Linked DNA regions of Homo sapiens. The protein of the gene in region 4 interacts with the protein of the main gene of each other region in a pairwise test. Each region holds a gene or a part of one and is shown on either strand. Other genes may lie near its edges. The genes, in order: DNAJA3, TLN1, TNRC6C, NLRP12, BIRC3, HCK and CORO1A.

Region 1 (3,500 bases), on a different chromosome or scaffold from region 4:
TTCCCTCTCTGTTCGCCAGAAGATGGACCTGTTTATCCCTGCAAGTGCTGAGTCTCTAAGCACACCATGGTCTTTCTGGGAGACCGGGGTCAGCTCTTAAGGTTTTCAGCAGCTACATTAAGATACTAAACGCATCAAAAACTATGCTGGTCAGGCACAGTGGCTCATGTCTGTAATTCCAACACTCTGGGAGGCCAAGGTGGGAGGATCACTTGAGTCCAGGAGTTTGAGGCTGCCGTGAGCTATGACTGCACCACTGCACTCCAGGCTGGGCCACAGAGCAAGACTCTGCCTCAAATAAATAAATAAATCCCACTGTTGCTTAAGTTCTTAGGACATGAGAATTATATGTCCTGTAATACTGTCATATGTGGATGCAAAACTAACTGTCTTCACAGTATAATGAGAGACTTAACCACCCACAGGCAGCAGACTGACATGTGACGGTGTATGCTTAGGGACAGAGTCTTGCCCTGGCACCCAGGCTGGAGTACAGTGTCGCTGTCATGACTCACCGCAGCCTTGAGTACTAAGGCTCAAGTGATCTTCTCATCTCAGCTTCCCAAGTAGCTGGTGATAGAGGTGCATACTACTTTGCACCTGGCTAGTTTTGAAATTTTTTGTAGAGACAGAGTCTCGCTATATTGCCCAGGCTGGTCTCGAACTCCTGGGTTCAAGTGATCTTCCTGCATTAGCCGCCCAAAGTGCTGGGATTATAGGTGTGAGCCGCTGCATCCGGCCTCACCAAGATCTTTAAAAGGAAGAGCTGACAGTGTCTTGCACACAGGAGAAGACATCCTGGCTGAGTGAGGGAACAGCTGAGTGAGGCTGAGTGATCAGGACAAGTAACCATGGAAGTGACAAAGGATCTCAGTGGGTGGCGGAATCAACTTTCAACTTACAGTATCAGAGAGAGGGTCAAAACATCAACTGGTGACCAGTAATACCCAACCTCCAACAGAGTAAGCAACACCCACGAACCCACCCAGGGCCCGGCCGTAGCACACCTCAAGCTACCCTGATGGGCGGGAGGAGGGAAGGACAGCTGTCTATGGAACCAATCTCGCATGTTATGTGATTGTAGGGTTTGAGGAAGGAGAAGCCACAGGTGCACTGATTAGAGTTCCGGGGAATAGCTACTCTATTACCACTTCTATTTTAGTTCAAGAGATACAACAAGAACAAAAGATAGTATACATATACACAGTATATGTACCAAACCATTAAAATAAGTGACATTTGGAACCTGGTTGGGCTACAGAGTTTTGTGGCAGCTGCTTTTTTGTTGTTGTTTTTTTGAGACAGAGTCTCGCTATGTCACCCAGGCTGTAGTGCAGTGGTGCAATCTTGGCTCACTGCACCCTCTGCCTCCTGGATTCAAGCAATTATCCTGCCTCAGCCTCCAGAGTAGCTGGGATTATGGATGCCCACCACCATGCCCCGCTAGTTTTTGTATTTTTTTTTTTTTTTTAGTAGAGACAGGGTTTCACCATGTTGGTCAGGCTGGTCTCAAACTCCTGACCTCGTGATCCACCCTCCTCGGCGTCCCAAAGTGCTAGGATTACAGGCGTGAGCCACCGCGCCAGGCCCTTTTTTTTTTTTTTTTTTTTTTTTTCAGAGAGTCTCACTGTCACCCAAGCTGGAGTGCAGTGGTGTGGTCTTGGCTCACTGCATCCTCTGCCTCCTGGGTTCAAGCGATTCTCCTGCCTCAGCGTCCTGAGTAGCTGAGATTACAGGCATGCACCACCATACCCAGCTAATTTTTGTATTTTTAGTAGGGATGGGGTTTCGCCATGCTGTCCAGGCTGGTCTCAAACTCCTGACTTCAAGTGATCCACCTGCCCCTGCCTCCCAAAGTGCTGGGATTACAGGCAAGAGCCACTGCGCCCGGCCGGCAGCTGCTTTTTAACAGAGGAATTCCAGTCCCCTGGGAGCAACAGGAGCTCAGTGAAATTCCAGGGACTTCCATCCCAGCCCCTGCCCCTGCCCCTGGAGCTCCAAATCCTCCACTTTATTGGAAAATCGGCCCCCAGCTCCAAACACCTGCTACGAATTACCATGCACTAATCTAAGGCTGCTCAAGTTCTGAGAACTCCACCCAGGATCCAAACAAAAACAAAATGATGCAATGAGGAGGAAATACATGCCGCCTGAACCAAGGACCCCTGGGCACAGCCTGCCCTGCCCTGAGCCAGGAGTCCCAGGAAAGAGGCCCCAGACCCCATGGGAAGAGGGGCTGCAGCTGGGGTGCCATTGTCTCAGCGCCCACAGCAGGTGTTCTGGTGACAGATCCCTAACACAGCCACTCGCTAGCACGATGTCTGAGCTCAGGGTAAATGGTGCATCTGTTCACGGCTAGATAACTTGGAGGGAGTCCTGCTCTAAAGCGGCGGACGGAGTCTGCTGACTGCGGCTCCACTGCTGTGGCTGCTGTTGTTTTAAGACACTCTGAAATCCTGGCGGAGTGTCCCAGGTGGGAAGTGCACAAATCCTTCCAATCCATGCTCTCTCCTTACGCTTTTGCCAGGAGCTCTCAGGGAAGGATTTGTCCGAGGTCACAGGGCAAGTGGCAGAACCAAGAATAGAACTCAGAACACTGGGTCTGAGACACGCAGAGCTGCCTGCAGGAAGTGCCCTGGTGCTCTCACCTCAGCACAGAAACACACACAGAGAGAGGAGGCGAAGCTTGGACTGGGGGCTGCGGCTCCCTGCCCGCTGTCCCCGCCCACAGCCCCCCTCTTTCAACTGCACATTTTAAAGGCTTCATGAAGAACCCGAAGTGGAAACCCCAACATGCTGCCCTGAATTGTCCATACCCTGGGGGGCTCTGAGGCCCCCACGTGTCACCATGTAGTCTTCAGACTCCTTACCAGAGCTGGTGAGGGTGACGCCGTTCACCGTCCCCTCCACATCTGTCTCGTCCTCGGCGTAGCTCAGGATCAGGCTCTGCTGCCGGCTCGTTAGCCTCCTGTGGACCGAGCAGAGTCAGCAGCCAAGGCTTCCGCCGGGAAGCTTTGGAAAGAACTCACAGGCAGCCAGCACCCTCGCAGCACATGGGAAGAGAGGGACCCAACCTTGGCAGGGGCGGACACCCTGAGCCAGTGCAGCGGTGAGAACCTAAGGACCATGCCCTCAAAGCTTCTGTACAGAAAAGCTCCTAAAACACCCTACACTAAGTCATTTAAACAAGTGTCACTGTGGCTATGCTAAATACAGTTTACAGGAGGGGAAACAGATTTTACCAGTGTGTATGTGAAGCAAGTAAGAAATTATCTAATTAGGCCAGGCGCAGTGGCTCATGCCTGTAATCCCAGCATTTTGGGAGGCCAAGGTGGGCGGATCACAAGGTCAGGAGATAGAGACCATCCTGGCCAACAAGGTGAAACCCCGTCTCTACTGAAAATACAAAAATTAGCTGGGCGTGGCGGCACATGCCTATAGTCCCAGCTACTTGGGAGGCTGAGGCAGGAGAATTGCTTAAATCTGGGAGGTGGAGATTG
Region 2 (3,500 bases), on a different chromosome or scaffold from region 4:
GAGTGTGCCCGGAGAGTCTCTGAGAAGGTGACGGTGCTCATCCCTGCAGATGGTGGGACTGCCTCCAAACTCTGTAGCCTTTGCCATCCTCCTCCAGCCCTCTCAGCCCTCTCCTGTTGTCACTTCTCCCAGGCATGGGCAACCTTTCCATTTCACATGGCACCTTCCACAGTCACCATGTGACATTCCCTACCCAGGTCTCCCACGTCCTGGCTGCGCTCCAGGCTGGGAATCGTGGCACCCAGGCCTGCATCACAGCAGCCAGCGCTGTGTCTGGTATCATTGCTGACCTCGACACCACCATCATGTTCGCCACTGCTGGCACGCTCAATCGTGAGGGTACTGAAACTTTCGCTGACCACCGGTAAGACAGGAACTGGGCCTAAGGGAGGCAGACAGGTCGGGGCACGGGGCTGGAAGAGGCAGGATAGCATTCGCTGGAATGGGGAAGACCTGGACCAGGCACCTTGGACGGGCTGGAGCGGGTAGGGGAGATCTGACTAAGCTGGGCCCTCCCTCAGGGAGGGCATCCTGAAGACTGCGAAGGTGCTGGTGGAGGACACCAAGGTCCTGGTGCAAAACGCAGCTGGGAGCCAGGAGAAGTTGGCGCAGGCTGCCCAGTCCTCCGTGGCGACCATCACCCGCCTCGCTGATGTGGTCAAGCTGGGTGCAGCCAGCCTGGGAGCTGAGGACCCTGAGACCCAGGTAGTGACCTGATGCCCCTAATTCCGGCTGGAATCACTTCCTGTCCCGCTTCTTCCTCCCATAGACCAGAGCCAACGCTTTCCCACACAGGTGGTACTAATCAACGCAGTGAAAGATGTAGCCAAAGCCCTGGGAGACCTCATCAGTGCAACGAAGGCTGCAGCTGGCAAAGTTGGAGATGACCCTGCTGTGTGGCAGCTAAAGAACTCTGCCAAGGTTGGAGAGAATGAGAGCAACATCAGGAGGGGCACTGGATTAACATACTTCCTCCTGTTCCTTAAAATCATTCCTCTTCACTCCTCTGATACCTCCAGGTGATGGTGACCAATGTGACATCATTGCTTAAGACAGTAAAAGCCGTGGAAGATGAGGCCACCAAAGGCACTCGGGCCCTGGAGGCAACCACAGAACACATACGGCAGGAGCTGGCGGTGAGTGAGAGTCTGGGGCATCAGTGACTAGGGTCAGAGAGAGGGATCCTGAAAGCCTGTGAACCTGTGCCACACATATACTCACAGCTGGAGTCACACACAGTCTTCTCTCTCATCTATCGCCAGACTTTTTTTTTGAGAAGGGTCTTGCTCTGTAGCCATCCTCCTCCAGCCTTCTCAGCCCTCTCCTCTTGTCATTTCTCCCAGGTGTGGGTGACCTTTCCATTTCACATGGCATCTTCCTCAGTCACCATGTGACTTCCCCTACCCCAGCTCTCCCACACCCTCCTTCTGGAGTGCAGTGGCGTGATCTCAGCTCACTACAACCTCCACCTCCCAGGTTCAAGTGCTTCTCATGCCTCAGCCTCCTGAGTCACTGGGAATACAGGTGCATACCATGCTGGCTAGTTTTTGTATTTTTAGTAGAGATGGGGTTTCACCATGTTGACCAGGCTGGTCTCGAACTCCTGGCCTCAAGTGATCCACCCGCCTTGGCCTCCCAAAGTGCTGGGATTACACTCATGAGCCACTGTGCCAGTGAGCTACATTCATGTCTGTCCCCTACCCACTTGTTTATTCCTTAGCATGTGACAACTGTATTTTTTCACCACCCTCCCACTTTCTCCAGTCACTAGTGGCCTCTTCTTAGTTGCTACATTCAGTGGCCACTTCTTGGCCTTCATCCTCTTTGAATATTTCGAAAGCATCTGACTGTGTTAACAAGCCTCTCTTTGAAATTCTTTCTTCTGCTGGGCATGGTGGCTCACGCCAGCACTTTGGGAGGCCAGCGGGTGTAATCCCAGCACTTTGGGAGGCTGAGGCGGGTGGATCACAAGGTCGGGAGTTCGAGACCAGCCTGGCCAATATGGTGAAACCCCGTCTCTACTAAAAATACAAAAATTAGCTGGGCGTGGTGGCACGCGCCTGTAGTCCCAGCTGCTTGGGAGGCTAAGGCAGGAGAATCGCTGGAACCCGGGAGGCAGAGGTTGCAGTGAGCCAAGATGGCGCCACTGCACTCCAGCCTGGGCAACAGAGTGAGACTCCATCTCAAAAAAAAACAAAAAAGAAAAAAAATGAAATTCTTTCTTCCCTTGGCCTAGATACTGGCTTTTCTCTTGTTTCTCGAACGTCATTGAATCACCTTTAACTTAGTAAATGTGGAGGCCTTCCCAGGGTTGTACAAATAGTCTTCCTTCTCTCTTCTCTTCTTTGGCAAGTTTAACCACTTTCATTATTATTCTGTAAGAAGCAGACATCCAGTTCTGAGTTGAGTTATTTTCAACTGCCTGTTTGACATCACCACCTAGATGCAGTGCCTCCGAACCATGACATGGTCCTCCTAATGGTGGGAACACCCTTGCAGTCATGAAGATTCCACCTCAGTCATCTTTGACTTCACCATCTTAGCCACCATATCCAGGCTGTTGCCACGTCCTTTCATTCCTCCTCCCTGGTTCCCTGTCCGCACTCTGGTTCACACTTCCATACTCTCCCGCAATTTGGCTGTGGCACCAGTTTTCTCCCTGGTCTCCCTGCTTCTGGTCCCTGCCACTCTCCTCTCTCCCTACTCATCTTTCTAATTTCTAAATGCATCTTTCTAAGGTTCTGTTTTCACTTTTACTTGAAGATGTCCAAGTTGGAACTCTTGACTTTCTGCCTCCCATACCTGGTCCTTTCCTGGTCTTCCCCCATCTCAGTAAATGGCACCTCTTAGTAACTCAGTTCCTAAAGCCAGAAACCTAGCTTCAATATATTAGACTTCTCTCTTTCTCTCATTCCCCACATCTAAGTTTTGCTAGTGCCCCTTCCAAATACAGCTCATTTTTTCTTTTTATCTCCTACCACTACCACACTGTCCAAACCATCATCAGTCCTTAACTGGATTTATGCAGTAGTCTCTATCCAGTCACCATGCTTCAACACTTGCCCCCTCCAATCCTCCTTTGTACACAGTAGCTAAAATTATGTTTTTAAAATATAAATTAGAGTCTGGACATGCTGGCTGATGCCTGTAAAATCCCAGCGCTTTGGAAGACTGAGATGGGAGGATCACTTGAGTGAGTTCAAGACTAGTCTGGACAACATAGCAAGATCCTGTCTCTACAAAAAATTTAAAGATTAGCTGGGCAAGGTGGCCCATGCCTGTCCCAGTTACTCATGAGTCTGAAGGCAGGAGGATCCCTTGAGCCCAGGGGTTCAAGTCTGCAGTGAACTATGATCACTCCAGTGCACTCCAGCCTGGGTGACAGAGCAAGAAATATATATATATTAGATTATGTCACTTCACTACTTAAAACCCATTAGTGATGGCTCTGCTTGCTTCTCCAGTCTCATCCTACTCTCTTCCTTTCTGTGCCCCATCCC
Region 3 (3,500 bases), on a different chromosome or scaffold from region 4:
TGGTTGTTGATACAACTCATTTTGTATGAAATGTGATTTGTATAATCGACCAAATCAACATATATATGTTGAAATCTAACTTGTAGAAGCACACTCAGCACTTGAAACCCGCAGGTCAGTAGAAGACATGGTGCCAGGCCTCGAGGTCAGGCCAGTCAGGAGAGACACAGCTCACATACCTGAAGACACCAGAGGGTATAAATTAGTAAATTGATTCTGCATGGACTAATTTGCCGTAAGAATTCAGAAGTTAGTGAAAGCACTTTAGGCTTGTCTGTTGATTGCTATTAGAGTCTGTAGATACAGGACAAAGGGTTATCGGTAACTTGGAAAATACATCTGTAAAGGGGCAAAGGCCAGTTGAGTGGTAGTGAATTTGCTGCCAGCAGATAATATTCATTTATCTAATTCTATTCAATGTCTCTGAAAAGAGCGGTATATTGTAATCATATGAATCCTTTTTACTTGACATATTATAAATGTGGTATATCTTTAATATGAGATTGATAAATACTAGACTAGATGATCTCGTTCCTTAATTATTGTCTCATCCATTAGAGCCCTTTGTGTCGAAGTAGGTAAGACCTGACTTAGGAATTAGACTCCCTAGGTTTGAGTCCCAACTCACCACCAAGAGGCTCACTACTAACTTGGGCAACTTGCCTAGCTGCTGTTTGCTTCAATTTCTTTATTTTTCTTTCTTTTTTTTTTGGTAGAGACAGGGTCTTTCTATGTTGCCCAGGCAAGTCTCAAAACTCCTGGCCTCAAGTGATCCTCCCTAAGTGTTAGGATTACAGGCCTGAGACACCATACTGAGCCATGCCTTAATTTCTTCATCTGTAATGTGGAAATACTTAACTCCTAGGTTTGTTTTAAAGATTAAATGAGCTAATATGTAAAGTTCTCTTTTTTCTTTTTTTTTTCTCTCTCTTTTTTTTTTTGGCTGGAGTGCAGTGGCGTGATCATAGCTCATTGCAGCCTCAAACTCCTGGCCTTAAGTGATCCTGCTGGTCTCAGCTTCCCAAAGTGCTGTGATTACAGGCATGAGCCATCACACCTGGCCTAATATGTAAAGTTCTTAAATAGTGCCTAGCACATAGCAAACACTTTGTAAAATGTCAGCTACTTATGTAAGTGCTTCTGTTTTAGAAACAAATTTCATCCCACCTATTATCCTAAAATGCATTAGCTTCAGCTTTCTATTATTCACCTGTCTTCTTAACCTATATTTGGAGGATAAAGTACACTTATCGTTACTTTTTTTTTTTTTTTTTTTTTTTTTTGAGATAGAGTCTTGCTCTGTTGCCCAGGCTGGAGTGCGATGGCGCAGTCTCGGCTCACTGCAACCTCCACCTTCTGGATTCAAGCAATTCTCCTGCCTCAGCCTCCCAAATTGATGGGATTACAGGCATGCATCACCACGCCTGGCTAATTTTTGTATTTTTAGTAGAGACTGGGTTTCACCATGTTGGCCAGGCTGGTCTCAAACTCCTGACCTCAAGTGATCCGCTCACCTAAGCCTCCCAAAGTGTTGGGATTACAGGCGTGAGCCACCGTGCCCGACCACTTATCTTTACTCTTAAGGATTTTTTCTCTTAGTACAAGTTAAAGAATTCATGCAGTGAATCTTTGAAATTAGTTGAAAAATAATTTGGATAATATTTTATAATATTCACAGTAAAGTTATAAATGTATTAAAAGCAAATAACTAATAAAGTCTAGGAAACTTTGGTTGTAAAATTGCCTATCTTGTTGGCTCTCAGCATTTCTCTGCAGCAGCACCTATGTTGAAGAGCCTGTTAGACACTCATCAATTCATGTAAAGAAACCAGCAGCCCATGGTCAGTAGTGGGGGCTCCTAGCTACCTTCCTTCCCTCATGTTCAGCCTGTCGTTGTTATTCTCAGTCTTTTGCCACCTGGAGTTCGCCATCTAGATAGGAAGAGCAGGCATATAAATGGGAAAAAATAACCTTGATACCAGTGTCATGTGATTCTTACAGGGCTCTAGAGAAGGAAAAGTTCACTTTCACTTTGAGTGGTGAAAGAAAAATCAGAGAGTAGGATTAAGCTTGAACCTCAAATGATTGGATAGGATTACAGTAAATAAAGAGGAAGCCTTTCCAAATAAAGGGGAAGCCTCACGTAGCACAGAAGAAAGAGGCCTGGCTTGTTTCAGGGGCCCATTTTGCAAGGGCCAGGCCAGTCTAGCTGACTTTCCCAGAGGGGAAAGTTGGGAGAGATGGGTTGGCGCCAAATTGTGAAATTTGGAGCATTCTGAAGGCCAGGTTGAAGCCCTGACATTGTTGCCACCTTACCTGGCTAGATCTGTACAAGCTGAAACGAAAAGAACCCACACAGCAGAGATTGCAAGTAGGCAGCCCTGTGGCACTGATGGGCTTGCAAAGGCGTTTTGTTAGGTCTGCGAAGTGTGTGTGTGCATGTGCATAGGTGTGTGTTAATGCCAACATTCAAAAATTGGGGAAAGTGGCTTCTGGCTTCTCTTAAAAATGGCTATAGTGGGTCTATGTTCCAGGTAGCAATAGGTGGTTGGCCCCAGTAGCACCTGTTTATTTAGACAGGACAGACACTCTCTGGTTTGCCACAGTCCCCATGAAGCCCACTTCTTCATGTGCATGGCCCACCTGGCTCCTATGGGCATTTGAATTTGCAGCCTCTGAAATAAAGGTAAGAACCAGAATGTTCAGCACCTGGCTAAGTAGTAGAGGCTCACTGTGCTTACGTACCGTGTGGCGTAGTACTTACGGTAAGGACCTATGGGGTATGTGTATGTGGTAAGGGGAACTGCAGCTGGAAATACAAGGGGAGGGGGGCGCTTGTGCTGGTTATTCCCTTCCAAACAAGCAGTCTGTCCTGCTCCAAACTAGTGTCCTCATCAGAAACTCTTTACTTCAACCTTCTTTTCATTGTCCTCCTCATCATCTTTCTTTATTAACCTAGCTTAGTGCAGGTCCTGGACAAATAACCAGGTACCTGCTTTTAGCTATAAGGAATGAGCCCAGAAGCCTCAGCTCACCATCCCAGCTGGGGGCAGATGGCAGCACCCCCGCTGTCAAATAGTTCAGTTCCTTAAAAGTAGTTTGATACTTAATTCACAGACTCTTTCAGAGCAGACTTTTGTAAAGGAAACTCACTAAAGGTAGAACTGAATTATCCTATCAGTCTGTTTCATAGGTGGTACTTTAGAGTTCTGGAAAAGTGTTTTTGACCTGATGAGTTTCCGTAAGATATCCCAAAACAAAGAAAGATTTTCCTAATAGTTTGGACTTTTTCTATTTTCCTGTGGACTCTGAGAAGCCTCAGGACCATGTTTATTCAGCACTGAAACAAGTAAAATGAAGAGAATTGTGGGCCTTACTTAATCAAAGACTATTCACATTTTCACCTTAATTTAGGAATAATATTCCTAGAAATACATGTTGTTATGACGATAAGTAGTATTTTTTCACCAGCACTAAAAGTTATAGTTAAAATATTTTGC
Region 4 (3,500 bases):
ATCATCTGAGGTCAGGAGTTCGAGACCAGCCTGGCCAACACGGTGAAACCCCCTCTCTACTAAAGATACAAAAATTAGCTGGATGTGGTGGCACACGCCTGTAATCACAGCTACTCAGGGGGCTGAGGCAGGAGGATCACTTGAACCTGAGAGGCGGAAGTTGCAGTGAGCTGAGATCACGTCACTGCACTCCAGCCACGGTGACAGAGTGAGACTCCATCTCAAAAAACAAAGTAGAATAGTGGCTGCCAAGGCCTAGAACAGGAAGAAATGGGGAGTTACCGTTTAACGGGAGCAGAGGTTCCATTTCGGAAGATGAAAAAGTTCCAGAGATGGGCCGGGTGCGGTAGTTCACGCCTGTAATCCCAGCACTTTGGGAGGCCGAGGTGGGCAGATCACCTGAGGTCTGGAGTTCGAGACCAGCCTGACCAACATGGAGAAGCCCCGTCTCTACTAAAATACAAAATTAGCCAGGCGTGGTGGCACATGCCTATAATCCCAACTACTCGGGAGGCTGAGGCAGGAGAATCACTTGAACTTGGGAGGCGGAGGTTGTGGTGAGCCAACACTGTGTCATTGCACTCCAGCCTGGACAACAAAAACGAAACTCCGTCTCAAAAAAAAAAAAAGTTCCAGAGATGGATAGCAGTGATGATTTCCCAGTAGCGTGAAACTACTTCATGCCACTGAGCCACAGTCAGCCCTCTGTGTCCACGGGTTCTGCATTCGTGAATTTCATCAACCATGGATCAAAAATATTCAGAAGGGCAGGGCGCGGTGGCTCACAGCTGTAATCACAACCCTCTGGAAGGCCAAGGCAGGAGAATGGCTTGAGTGCAGGAGCTCAAGAGCAGCCTGGGAACCAGTGAGACTTCATCTCTACAAAAAATAAACATAATTAGCTGGGGTGGGTGGTATGTGTCTGGAGTCCCAGCTATTCAGGAGCCTCGGAGGCCAAGGCTGCAGTGAGCTGTGATCAAGCCACTGTACCCCAGACTGGGTGACAGGGTGAGACCCTGTCCCTAATAAAATAAAAAGTAAATTTAATTGTGGTAAAATACATGCAACATAAAATGTACCATCTTCCCCAGTTTTCTTTTTTTTTTTTGAGACAGAGTCTTGCTCTGTCGCCCAGGCTGGAGTGCAGTGGTGTGATCTCTGCTCACTGCAAGCTCCGCCTCCCGGGTTCACACCATTCTCCTGCCTCGACCTCCCTAGTAGCTGGGACTACAGGCGCCTGCCACCACGCTTGGCTAATTTTTTGTATTTTTAGTAGAGACGGGGTTTCACCGTGTTAGCCAGGATGGTCTCGATCTCCTGACCTCGTGACCCGCCCGCCTCAGCCCCCGAAAGTGCTGGGATTACAGGCGTGAGCCACCATGCCCGGCCGCATTCTATTTATTTTTAATAGTAGGCATCCTAATGGGTATGAGATGCTATCTTATCGTGGTTTTCATTTGTATTTCCCCAATGATTATTGAGATTGAGCATCTTTTCAGGTGCTTTTTGGCCATTTGTACACCTTCCTTGAAGAAATGTGTATTCAAGCCTTTTGCTCATTTATTTTTATTTATTATTTATTTATTTGAGATGGAGTTCCACTCTTGTTGCCCAGGCTGGAGTGCAATGGCGTGATCTCAGCTCACGGCAACCTCCGCCTCCTGGGTTCAAGTGATTCTCCTGCCTCAGCCTCCCAAGTAGCTGGGATTACAGGCATGCGCCACCACGCCCAGCTAATTTTTTGTATTTAGTAGAGACGGGGTTTCACCATGTTAGCCAGGATGGTCTCCATCTCCCAACCTCAGGTGATCCACCCATCTCAGCCTCCCAAAGTGCTGAGATTACAGGCATGAGCCACTGTGCCCAGTCTAATTTTGTATTATTAGTAGAGAGGGGGTTTCTCCATGTTGGTCAGGCTGGTCTCAAACTCCCGACCTCAGGTGATCTGCCAGCCTCGGCCTCCCAAAGTGCTGGGATTACAGGCGTGAGCCACCAGGCCGGGCCCTTTTGCCCATTTTTAAATTAGATTGTCTGAAAATGCATTACTGTTAAGATTGGGGGCCTAGGCGCAGTGGCTCACGCCTGTAATTCCAGTCCTTTGGGAGGCTGAGGCAGGCATATCACCCATGGTCAGGAGTTCGAGACCACCCTAGCCAACATGGCGAGAAACCCTGTCTCTACTAAAAATACAAAAACTAACTAGGCGTGATGCCACACGCTTGTAGTCCCAGCGATTCAGGAGGCTGAGGCAGGAGAATCGCTTGAACATGGGAGGTGGAGGATGCAGCTGAGCCGAGATTGCACCACTGCATTCCAGCCTGGGCAACAGAGTGGGACTCTGTCTCAAAAAAAAAAAAAAAAAAAAAGAAAAAGAAAGGAAAGCCTCCATAATGCTTGTTGAATTGGACTTTGTGCAGGCTGAAGATCTGCCGCCTCACTGCTGCTGCCTGTGACGAGCTGGCCTCAACTCTCAGTGTGAACCAGAGCCTGAGAGAGCTGGACCTGAGCCTGAATGAGCTGGGGGACCTCGGGGTGCTGCTGCTGTGTGAGGGCCTCAGGCATCCCACGTGCAAGCTCCAGACCCTGCGGTGAGTCCCGTTTTGCTCACCACGCTAGGAGTCCCAATCCATGAACGCAGCCCTCTCACCTGGGACCACGGAGGCCAGGTTGTCTCTGCTCCTAAACTCTAGCTACTACATCAGCCTTTTTTTTTTTTTTTTGAGACTCCCAAGTAGCTGAGATTACAGGCGCCCGCCACCAAGCCCAGCTAATTTTTTGTATTTTTAGTAGAGACAGGGTTTCATCATGTTAGCAGGATGGTCTCGATCTACTGACCTCATGATCTGCCTGCCTTGGCCTCCCAAAGTGCTGGGATTACAGGCTTGAGCCACTGCACCCAGCCTACATCAGCCTTTTTAAAAGGATTTTTCTGGCCGGGCATGGTGGCTGACACCTTAATTCCAGCACTTTTGGGAGGCCGAGGTGGGAGGATCACCTGAGGTGGGGAATTCGAGACCAGCCTGACCAACATGTAGAAACACCCCATCTGTACTAAAAATACAAAAGTAGCCAGGCATGGTGGTGCATGCCTATAATGCCAGCTACTCGCGAGGCTGAGGCAGGAGAATCCGTTGAACCCGGGAGGTGGAAGTTGCTGTGAGCTGAGATGGAGCCATTGCACTCCAGTCTGGGCAACAAGAGCGAAACTCCGTCTCAAAAAAAAAAAAGGGGGGGGTTTTCTGACGCACGGCCCTTTGCACAAGCAATTCTTATTCCCTGGCATGCCTTCTGCTCTCTGTCCCCTCTTTGCCTGGAGAAGTTCAATTTTTCTTCTGAACACTCTTTACTTTGTATTTTGAGACAGGGTCTTGCTCTGTCACCAGTGCTGGAGTGGAGTGGTGTGATCATAGCCCGACATCCTGGGCTGAAGCCATCCTCCCAACTCAGCCTCCTGAGTAGCTGGGACTGCAAGCGCATGCCACCACAGATGGCTAATTTTT
Region 5 (3,500 bases), on a different chromosome or scaffold from region 4:
TTTCCTGGCCACTAAATTTCACAATTTCCAAAAAGCAAAATAAACATATTCTGAATATTTTTGCTGTGAAACACTTGACAGCAGAGCTTTCCACCATGAAAAGAAGCTTCATGAGTCACACATTACATCTTTGGGTTGATTGAATGCCACTGAAACATTCTAGTAGCCTGGAGAAGTTGACCTACCTGTGGAGATGCCTGCCATTAAATGGCATCCTGATGGCTTAATACACATCACTCTTCTGTGAAGGGTTTTAATTTTCAACACAGCTTACTCTGTAGCATCATGTTTACATTGTATGTATAAAGATTATACAAAGGTGCAATTGTGTATTTCTTCCTTAAAATGTATCAGTATAGGATTTAGAATCTCCATGTTGAAACTCTAAATGCATAGAAATAAAAATAATAAAAAATTTTTCATTTTGGCTTTTCAGCCTAGTATTAAAACTGATAAAAGCAAAGCCATGCACAAAACTACCTCCCTAGAGAAAGGCTAGTCCCTTTTCTTCCCCATTCATTTCATTATGAACATAGTAGAAAACAGCATATTCTTATCAAATTTGATGAAAAGCGCCAACACGTTTGAACTGAAATACGACTTGTCATGTGAACTGTACCGAATGTCTACGTATTCCACTTTTCCTGCTGGGGTTCCTGTCTCAGAAAGGAGTCTTGCTCGTGCTGGTTTCTATTACACTGGTGTGAATGACAAGGTCAAATGCTTCTGTTGTGGCCTGATGCTGGATAACTGGAAAAGAGGAGACAGTCCTACTGAAAAGCATAAAAAGTTGTATCCTAGCTGCAGATTCGTTCAGAGTCTAAATTCCGTTAACAACTTGGAAGCTACCTCTCAGCCTACTTTTCCTTCTTCAGTAACAAATTCCACACACTCATTACTTCCGGGTACAGAAAACAGTGGATATTTCCGTGGCTCTTATTCAAACTCTCCATCAAATCCTGTAAACTCCAGAGCAAATCAAGATTTTTCTGCCTTGATGAGAAGTTCCTACCACTGTGCAATGAATAACGAAAATGCCAGATTACTTACTTTTCAGACATGGCCATTGACTTTTCTGTCGCCAACAGATCTGGCAAAAGCAGGCTTTTACTACATAGGACCTGGAGACAGAGTGGCTTGCTTTGCCTGTGGTGGAAAATTGAGCAATTGGGAACCGAAGGATAATGCTATGTCAGAACACCTGAGACATTTTCCCAAATGCCCATTTATAGAAAATCAGCTTCAAGACACTTCAAGATACACAGTTTCTAATCTGAGCATGCAGACACATGCAGCCCGCTTTAAAACATTCTTTAACTGGCCCTCTAGTGTTCTAGTTAATCCTGAGCAGCTTGCAAGTGCGGGTTTTTATTATGTGGGTAAGAAACTGAATCTGCTAATTAAAAAAAATATATTTCATTTTATACATTTTAGTGGGCAAATTATGTGTATTCATAAGTTTTGGTCTAAAATTAATTTTAGGTAACAGTGATGATGTCAAATGCTTTTGCTGTGATGGTGGACTCAGGTGTTGGGAATCTGGAGATGATCCATGGGTTCAACATGCCAAGTGGTTTCCAAGGTAATTGTTTTGAAATTCTCTTTGCAAATTCTTGTGATTATCATGAGATTGCTTATATGTGTTCACCTGAAATCAGTTGTTACTTTACTCTGTTCCAAATATATATTTGTGAATAAGTTTAGGATGGATTACTTAGTAAAATACTTACTTAAAAAGTTTCGATGGACTTAAGACAACGAAGAAATAGATTTGGGGATTTTTGTTTAATTTTTAAAGAAATATATATATATTTAAATAATACATGCTCATTATAAAAACAAAGTCACACATTGTAGAAAAGCACAGAGAAGGAAAATTAAAATGTCCAGAAATCTTACCGCCTAAGGATGAGCATGGTTACCACTTTAGTGAACATCCCTCCAGACATATAGAAATAAATGTATATGATACATATACATATAGAAATAAATACATATACATATAGAAATAAATGTACACCATTTTACATAAGTTAAATATTATATCTAGTTTTGAAGTTTTTTCAGTCAACATTTGTCTTGGATATATTTCCATTCATTCGGTATTCAATAATAATTGATCACCTATTGGCAGGCATTGTTCTGGGTGCATAAAATCAGTTGAACAAAACAAAGACCCCTGGTCTCCTAAGTTTTTATTATAGCACGAGAGAACAGACAACTAATAAAAACTTGAATAAGTTCTATAGCATGTTGGAAAATAAGTACAATCAATAAAAAGAACAAAGAGGAGTTTAGAAATGCCAGGCAGGTTACAATATTAAATTGGGTGGTCAGGGTAAGTATAGACTCATCTCATCTGTTTTAGTCGCCACGCAGCATTTTAATGTGATGTGTTACCCTTTTGATTGTTTAACTGGCCACCTAGTGTTCTAGTTAATCCTGATTAGCTTGCAAGTGTGGGTTTTTATCACGTGGGTAAGAAACTTAATGTACTAACTAAAATATCAGCTTCAAAAAGTTTTTTACACTCTCCTTTTTCATCTAAATCATGTGGCCTACAATTACATTTTTTCATGGTCAAAACTTTTGCTATTATTCAACCCGTTTCCCATTTGCCCTGAGAATACTGCACTGGCAACAAGCTGCACTGTTTTTTTTCTAAATGGGAAATGGGTTAATATCGATTAATAAATGTGGCATCTTAACTTATTTTGATTACTTTTTTTCCTCTTTTCTTTTGAGATGGAGCCTGGCTCTGTTGCCCAGATTGGAGTGCGATGGTGTGATGTCAGCTCACTGCAACCTCCGCCTCTTGGGTTCAGGCAATTCTCATGCCTCGAGCCTCGCTAGTAGCTGGGATTACAGGTGCACGCTAGCATGCCCAGCTAATTTTTGTATTTTTGTAGAGACAGGGTTTCACCATGTTGTCCAGGCTGGTCTCAAACTCCTGACCTCAGGACTTTGAGGTGCTTGCCCGGCCAACATCAGTGTGTTTTAAGAATCTTAGAAGAGTTGAAGAGAGTAGCTAAGAGCTCTGAGGAGAGATGGTCTTACTTGACCTCAGTAGACTGAGGGGCTCCTGACCCTTGTCCACTTGAGCCTTGGTAGATAACTAGTAATCACCTTCCTCTTGCTTATATCAACCTGCCTTTCACTGCAATATCTCTGACCATTCCCTATATGCTAAATGAATAGTAAATTGATTATATGTACATTTATACTCATTTGAAATATTTATACTTCACAATATATTAAGAGTAAATTGATTATATGTATGTTTATACTCACTTGAAATAGCCAGTCTACAAATGGCTGGATTAGTCCTGCCCAAATTAAGATAAACCTTTAGAACTTTTCAAAATTAGCTGAAGTGGTCGGGTGCAGTGGCTCATGCCTGTAATCGCAGCACTTTGGGAGGCTGAGGCAGGAGGATCACTTGAGGTCAGGAGTTCGAGACCAGTATGGCAACATGGTAAAGCCCCATCTCCACTAAAAAT
Region 6 (2,558 bases), on a different chromosome or scaffold from region 4:
CATCAGTCTTACTGCTTTCTCCCTCCTCGTCCTACAGCCTATTCTCCACTTGCAGCCAGAAGGATAATTCTAAACTTTAAATCAGATCTTGTCCTTTCTCCACCTTTTTTTTTTTTTTTAAGACAAGGTCTCACTCTGTCACTGAGGCTGTAGTGCAGTGGTGTAATCATAGCTCATGGCAGCCTCGACTTCCTAGGCTCAAATGATCCTCCCGCTTCAGCCTCCCGAGTATCTGGGACCATAGGCACATGCCACCATGTCTGGCTATTTTTTATTTTTTTAATTTTTTTGTAGAGACTTGGTCTCACTACGTTGTGCAGCCTGGTCTCTAACTTCCAGGCTCAAACGATCCTCCAGCCTTGGCCTCCCAAAATGCTGGGATTACAGACACACACCACCATGCCCAGCTAATTCTTTAAATTTTTTGAGAGACAAGGTATTGCTATGTTGCCGGGCTGGTGATTTCCATTTTTAAGCGATGCTTTCAGCATGGAGAGTGAATGGGAGGGAAAGGGAACAGGGTGGCAGCCAGTGAGGAGGCCACAGCAGTGGCCCAGGCAGAGGTGATGATGGTCTGGACAGGGTGGTGGCATTCGTGACTGGCATACGTTGATGAACTGGTGCTACGTTTCAAAAGGAGAAAAGATCTGACTTGCTGACTTAGGAGGTGAGAGAGAGAGAATAAAGGATGATTACCCTGGCTTTGCACCACAGGGTGGGTAATGGTCTAGGGATAGAAATTGGAGAGCTCTGTTTTAGCTCTGCTAAATTTGAGTTGACTTAAATATAGAGACATCCAAGTAAAGGAAGCACTTGAGTTCATGAGTTTGGAGTTTGAGACTAATAATATAAAATTGGGGATCACAGACATTGAATGGCTATTCTTATGAATAGCTAATAGAAACTTGAACTGAACAAAAAAATGGTCCCACCCATAGGTTAACATTGAATCTGGCCACCTGAATGTTTTGTCTTGAGGGTGCACTAGTCAAAACCAGGCAACACACAATAGACGCTGAATCCATTAGGATGTGTTCCACAGCAAGCAACAAAATAACAGACAAAGAGTAACTGAAATAGAAGCAATCTATTACTCCCAATCTTCCATTGGTGACTGGTTAGTTCAGCAACTCAGCAGCTGTCAGGACTCTGGGTTCCTGTCTCTATGATGGTCTTCTCCATGTTGTCAGCTCCAAGTATCATAAGTATCTCACAGTGTTCAAAGGAAGAGATGAAGGGTGCGTTCTCCAAAGACTCTCCTCTAAGCGGGAGGAAAAACCTTTCCATCACTTTCCCAGCAGACCTCCCCATCAGCTCCCATTGGCCCAAACTGGGTCCCAGGCCCATGTCCTAGCTGCAAGTGAAGCTGAGGGTGGAAGTCTGTCTTTCACAGTGGAAGGGGCTCAGCTTGCAAGGTGAGGTGGGGAGTGATGCCTGCTGGGGAGGCCACAGGGCCTGCCACCCCTGGGCTCTCATTTCCCAACTGCTTCCGTTTCTAATTCCACGGCTCCTTTTCAGGGATGTCAAACCCTGAAGTGATCCGAGCTCTGGAGCGTGGATACCGGATGCCTCGCCCAGAGAACTGCCCAGAGGAGCTCTACAACATCATGATGCGCTGCTGGAAAAACCGTCCGGAGGAGCGGCCGACCTTCGAATACATCCAGAGTGTGCTGGATGACTTCTACACGGCCACAGAGAGCCAGTACCAACAGCAGCCATGATAGGGAGGACCAGGGCAGGGCCAGGGGGTGCCCAGGTGGTGGCTGCAAGGTGGCTCCAGCACCATCCGCCAGGGCCCACACCCCCTTCCTACTCCCAGACACCCACCCTCGCTTCAGCCACAGTTTCCTCATCTGTCCAGTGGGTAGGTTGGACTGGAAAATCTCTTTTTGACTCTTGCAATCCACAATCTGACATTCTCAGGAAGCCCCCAAGTTGATATTTCTATTTCCTGGAATGGTTGGATTTTAGTTACAGCTGTGATTTGGAAGGGAAACTTTCAAAATAGTGAAATGAATATTTAAATAAAAGATATAAATGCCAAAGTCTTTACCAAAACGTTGGTTTTCCTGTCCTTCCAATTCCTGAATATCTATTTGCCTTCTTGCTGTATGACAAGTCAGAAATGGTGAAGGACTCTCCCGGGGACCAGAAATACAAAGACAAGTGGGGTTCAGACTGGGTGCTGTGGCTCCCACCTATAATACCAGTGCTTTGGGAGACCGAGGAGCGGGGGATTGCTTGAGCCCAGGAGGTCGAGGCCACAGTGAGCTATGATCGTGCCACTGCACTCTAGCCTGAGCGACACAGTGAGACCCTGTTTAAAAAAAAAAAAAAAAGATGAAGAAGAAGAAAGAAAGGAAAGGAAAGAAAATTGGGGTTCAATGCTTGAGGTTTTCTAACTGCCCTAAAATAGTTACTGGCTATATTAGTTTCCTCTTGCTCCTGTAACAAATTACCACATATCTGGTAGCTTAAGACAACAAAACTGCATAACATTACTTGGCCGGGCATAATGGCTCATGCCTATAGTTCCAGCATTTTGGGAGACTGAGGTG
Region 7 (2,975 bases), on a different chromosome or scaffold from region 4:
GACGTGTGGACAAGAATGCGCCCACGGTCTGTGGCCACACAGCCCCTGTGCTAGACATCGCCTGGTGCCCGCACAATGACAACGTCATTGCCAGTGGCTCCGAGGACTGCACAGTCATGGTGAGTGGTGGTGGGGACCCAGGGGCTGGGAGAGGGGCTCTAGGATGGGATCTGACATTTGGAGTCCTGAAGACTCACTGGCCCCTCCTCTGCAGGTGTGGGAGATCCCAGATGGGGGCCTGATGCTGCCCCTGCGGGAGCCCGTCGTCACCCTGGAGGGCCACACCAAGCGTGTGGGCATTGTGGCCTGGCACACCACAGCCCAGAACGTGCTGCTCAGTGCAGGTGCTGCGGGAGGAGGGGCTTGGGGGTGGCTCGTGGCCTGCAGTGGATGAGGGCAGGAGGCTCATGGCTTCTGACACTGTGGGGAACGTGCAGGTTGTGACAACGTGATCATGGTGTGGGACGTGGGCACTGGGGCGGCCATGCTGACACTGGGCCCAGAGGTGCACCCAGACACGATCTACAGTGTGGACTGGAGCCGAGATGGAGGCCTCATTTGTACCTCCTGCCGTGACAAGCGCGTGCGCATCATCGAGCCCCGCAAAGGCACTGTCGTAGCTGTGAGTCGCCATCTACCCTGACCTTTGACCCTACAGCCTTTATCCTTCTTATCCACCATCAGCCAGGCCCTTGGATGCTGCCCTCCCTCGCCTCCACCTGGGACTGGCCCCGTAGGGTATGTACGGGTGCCTGACCTACCACCTCCCTTTCCTTGCAGGAGAAGGACCGTCCCCACGAGGGGACCCGGCCCGTGCGTGCAGTGTTCGTGTCGGAGGGGAAGATCCTGACCACGGGCTTCAGCCGCATGAGTGAGCGGCAGGTGGCGCTGTGGGACACAGTGAGTGCTGGGGCAGGAAGCCGAGGGCCCCCAGGCTGGGAACCAAGACTGGAGGTTTCGTCCCTGCTCTGCCACTCACCTGGCAGGATGGCCATGGGCCTCAGTTTACCCAGGCGTGAGATGGTTGTTCCCACTGGTTGGTCGGGAGGGCCCTCACAGGTCACTGCCCAGGGAAGACCACCATCCCAGGGCCTGGGATGTTACCTCTCACCTGTGTCTACAGAAGCACCTGGAGGAGCCGCTGTCCCTGCAGGAGCTGGACACCAGCAGCGGTGTCCTGCTGCCCTTCTTTGACCCTGACACCAACATCGTCTACCTCTGTGGCAAGGTGGCCTCGTCGGGCGGGGTGGGGGTGGGAGGTGGGCAGGATGGGCCTGGAGAGGGCCAGGGCAGTGGGCATCCGCTGGTATTGACCCTCCCTCCACACCTGCCACCTACAGGGTGACAGCTCAATCCGGTACTTTGAGATCACTTCCGAGGCCCCTTTCCTGCACTATCTCTCCATGTTCAGTTCCAAGGAGTCCCAGCGGGGCATGGGCTACATGCCCAAACGTGGCCTGGAGGTGAACAAGTGTGAGATCGCCAGGTGACTGACCCCCGGCCCTGACCGCAGCATGCTCCTTGGGCAGTGGGCAGTCCCAAGCCCACCCAACCAGACTGTGGGCCCCGCTCACCTTCCCCTTCCCACAGGTTCTACAAGCTGCACGAGCGGAGGTGTGAGCCCATTGCCATGACAGTGCCTCGAAAGGTGATGCTCCCCCGCCCCACCCTGGGCTCCAGGCTGGGCACTGACTTTGCGGTCTTGTGGGGGGTGTCCTGGCATAAGCGCTTTCCTCACTATCCCTGGCCTTGCCCACAGTCGGACCTGTTCCAGGAGGACCTGTACCCACCCACCGCAGGGCCCGACCCTGCCCTCACGGCTGAGGAGTGGCTGGGGGGTCGGGATGCTGGGCCCCTCCTCATCTCCCTCAAGGATGGCTACGTACCCCCAAAGAGCCGGGAGCTGAGGGTCAACCGGGGCCTGGACACCGGGCGCAGGAGGGCAGCACCAGAGGCCAGTGGCACTCCCAGCTCGGTGAGAGGGCTGGGAAGCCAGGGAATAAAACTGGGAGGGTGGGGTGGGGCTGGTGTTTGGGGCACCTCAAACTCACAACATTGGGAATCTTTGTGGGTCCGGGAATGGTAATCCTGAGGCCTCAGAACACAGGTTTCAGATTGATAGGCCTGCAGGTCTCCAGGCAGCAACCAGCTGAGCGACTAAAGGGCCCAAGGCCAGGGCTCTAGGGATGGGGCTCAGCAGAGGCTGGGGTAAGGGGAGCCAGGGAGGAGCTGGGCCTAATGCAGCACCGGGTCCCCAGGATGCCGTGTCTCGGCTGGAGGAGGAGATGCGGAAGCTCCAGGCCACGGTGCAGGAGCTCCAGAAGCGCTTGGACAGGCTGGAGGAGACAGTCCAGGCCAAGTAGAGCCCCGCAGGGCCTCCAGCAGGGTCAGCCATTCACACCCATCCACTCACCTCCCATTCCCAGCCACATGGCAGAGAAAAAAATCATAATAAAATGGCTTTATTTTCTGGTACCTCCCAGACTCTGATGACTGGTCCCCTAGACACGCAGTTTGCTGAACCAACCAGCCCTAGAGCTTCCCCTCCACCGCGCTGAGGGGACTGACCCATGGCAGGGGATGTGGGATGCCCCCTGACTTACTACATCACAGGAACAGGGCCTTCGTGGGTAGAAACCAGCCATGCTGATGTGGGCCAGGAGGCTGCTCTCCGTTTCCGAGCTCCTTCTCAGAGCTGACACAGCTGAACTATTTAAGGCCCTAGCTTAGAACCTCAATAATTCCCAAATTTACCAAAAATCTGCCTTTCCTAGTCAACCAAAACATCACGTTGCACGTGACTCTGCTGGCACTGTTGCTTGTGAGGAAATGAACCAACCATCACTTACAGGGTAGGCATCTTTTAAACTGCAGGTCCAAAGATAAAAATAACGAGGGAGGCTGGGCATGGGGACTCACGTCTATAATCCCAGCACTGTGGGAGGCTGAGGCGGCAGGATCATTTGAGCCCAGGA

What was found.
Region 1: the proteins of NLRP12 (region 4) and DNAJA3 interact in a two-hybrid assay, tested with the Homo sapiens proteins (one large-scale study listed by IntAct).
Region 2: the proteins of NLRP12 (region 4) and TLN1 interact in a two-hybrid assay, tested with the Homo sapiens proteins (one large-scale study listed by IntAct).
Region 3: the proteins of NLRP12 (region 4) and TNRC6C interact in a two-hybrid assay, tested with the Homo sapiens proteins (one large-scale study listed by IntAct).
Region 5: the proteins of NLRP12 (region 4) and BIRC3 interact in a two-hybrid assay, tested with the Homo sapiens proteins (one large-scale study listed by IntAct).
Region 6: the proteins of NLRP12 (region 4) and HCK interact in binary tests that used the Homo sapiens proteins (3 or more experiments, as listed by UniProt).
Region 7: the proteins of NLRP12 (region 4) and CORO1A interact in a two-hybrid assay, tested with the Homo sapiens proteins (one large-scale study listed by IntAct).

The regions. Positions count from the first base shown.
Region 1 is NC_000016.10:4,449,868-4,453,367, reverse strand, and holds part of DNAJA3 (dnaJ homolog subfamily A member 3, mitochondrial), read right to left. Parts: intron 2,969-3,500; coding exon 2,871-2,968; intron 1-2,870. UniProt on the Homo sapiens protein: Modulates apoptotic signal transduction or effector structures within the mitochondrial matrix. Affect cytochrome C release from the mitochondria and caspase 3 activation, but not caspase 8 activation.
Region 2 is NC_000009.12:35,701,196-35,704,695, reverse strand, and holds part of TLN1 (talin-1), read left to right. Parts: coding exon 1-27; intron 28-197; coding exon 198-364; intron 365-521; coding exon 522-705; intron 706-795; coding exon 796-921; intron 922-1,019; coding exon 1,020-1,136; intron 1,137-3,500. UniProt on the Homo sapiens protein: High molecular weight cytoskeletal protein concentrated at regions of cell-matrix and cell-cell contacts. Involved in connections of major cytoskeletal structures to the plasma membrane.
Region 3 is NC_000017.11:78,087,703-78,091,202, forward strand, and holds part of TNRC6C (trinucleotide repeat-containing gene 6C protein), read left to right. Parts: intron 1-3,500. UniProt on the Homo sapiens protein: Plays a role in RNA-mediated gene silencing by micro-RNAs (miRNAs). Required for miRNA-dependent translational repression of complementary mRNAs by argonaute family proteins.
Region 4 is NC_000019.10:53,800,315-53,803,814, reverse strand, and holds part of NLRP12 (NACHT, LRR and PYD domains-containing protein 12), read left to right. Parts: intron 1-2,417; coding exon 2,418-2,588; intron 2,589-3,500. UniProt on the Homo sapiens protein: Plays an essential role as an potent mitigator of inflammation. Primarily expressed in dendritic cells and macrophages, inhibits both canonical and non-canonical NF-kappa-B and ERK activation pathways.
Region 5 is NC_000011.10:102,323,984-102,327,483, forward strand, and holds part of BIRC3 (baculoviral IAP repeat-containing protein 3), read left to right. Parts: 5' UTR 1-526; coding exon 527-1,379; intron 1,380-1,482; coding exon 1,483-1,582; intron 1,583-3,500. UniProt on the Homo sapiens protein: Multi-functional protein which regulates not only caspases and apoptosis, but also modulates inflammatory signaling and immunity, mitogenic kinase signaling and cell proliferation, as well as cell invasion and metastasis.
Region 6 is NC_000020.11:32,099,799-32,102,356, forward strand, and holds the end of HCK (tyrosine-protein kinase HCK), read left to right. Parts: intron 1-1,518; coding exon 1,519-1,721; 3' UTR 1,722-2,058; downstream 2,059-2,558. UniProt on the Homo sapiens protein: Non-receptor tyrosine-protein kinase found in hematopoietic cells that transmits signals from cell surface receptors and plays an important role in the regulation of innate immune responses, including neutrophil, monocyte, macrophage and mast cell functions, phagocytosis, cell survival and proliferation, cell adhesion and migration.
Region 7 is NC_000016.10:30,186,602-30,189,576, forward strand, and holds the end of CORO1A (coronin-1A), read left to right. Parts: coding exon 1-119; intron 120-214; coding exon 215-344; intron 345-437; coding exon 438-622; intron 623-780; coding exon 781-900; intron 901-1,123; coding exon 1,124-1,228; intron 1,229-1,340; coding exon 1,341-1,486; intron 1,487-1,590; coding exon 1,591-1,648; intron 1,649-1,759; coding exon 1,760-1,975; intron 1,976-2,258; coding exon 2,259-2,363; 3' UTR 2,364-2,475; downstream 2,476-2,975. UniProt on the Homo sapiens protein: May be a crucial component of the cytoskeleton of highly motile cells, functioning both in the invagination of large pieces of plasma membrane, as well as in forming protrusions of the plasma membrane involved in cell locomotion.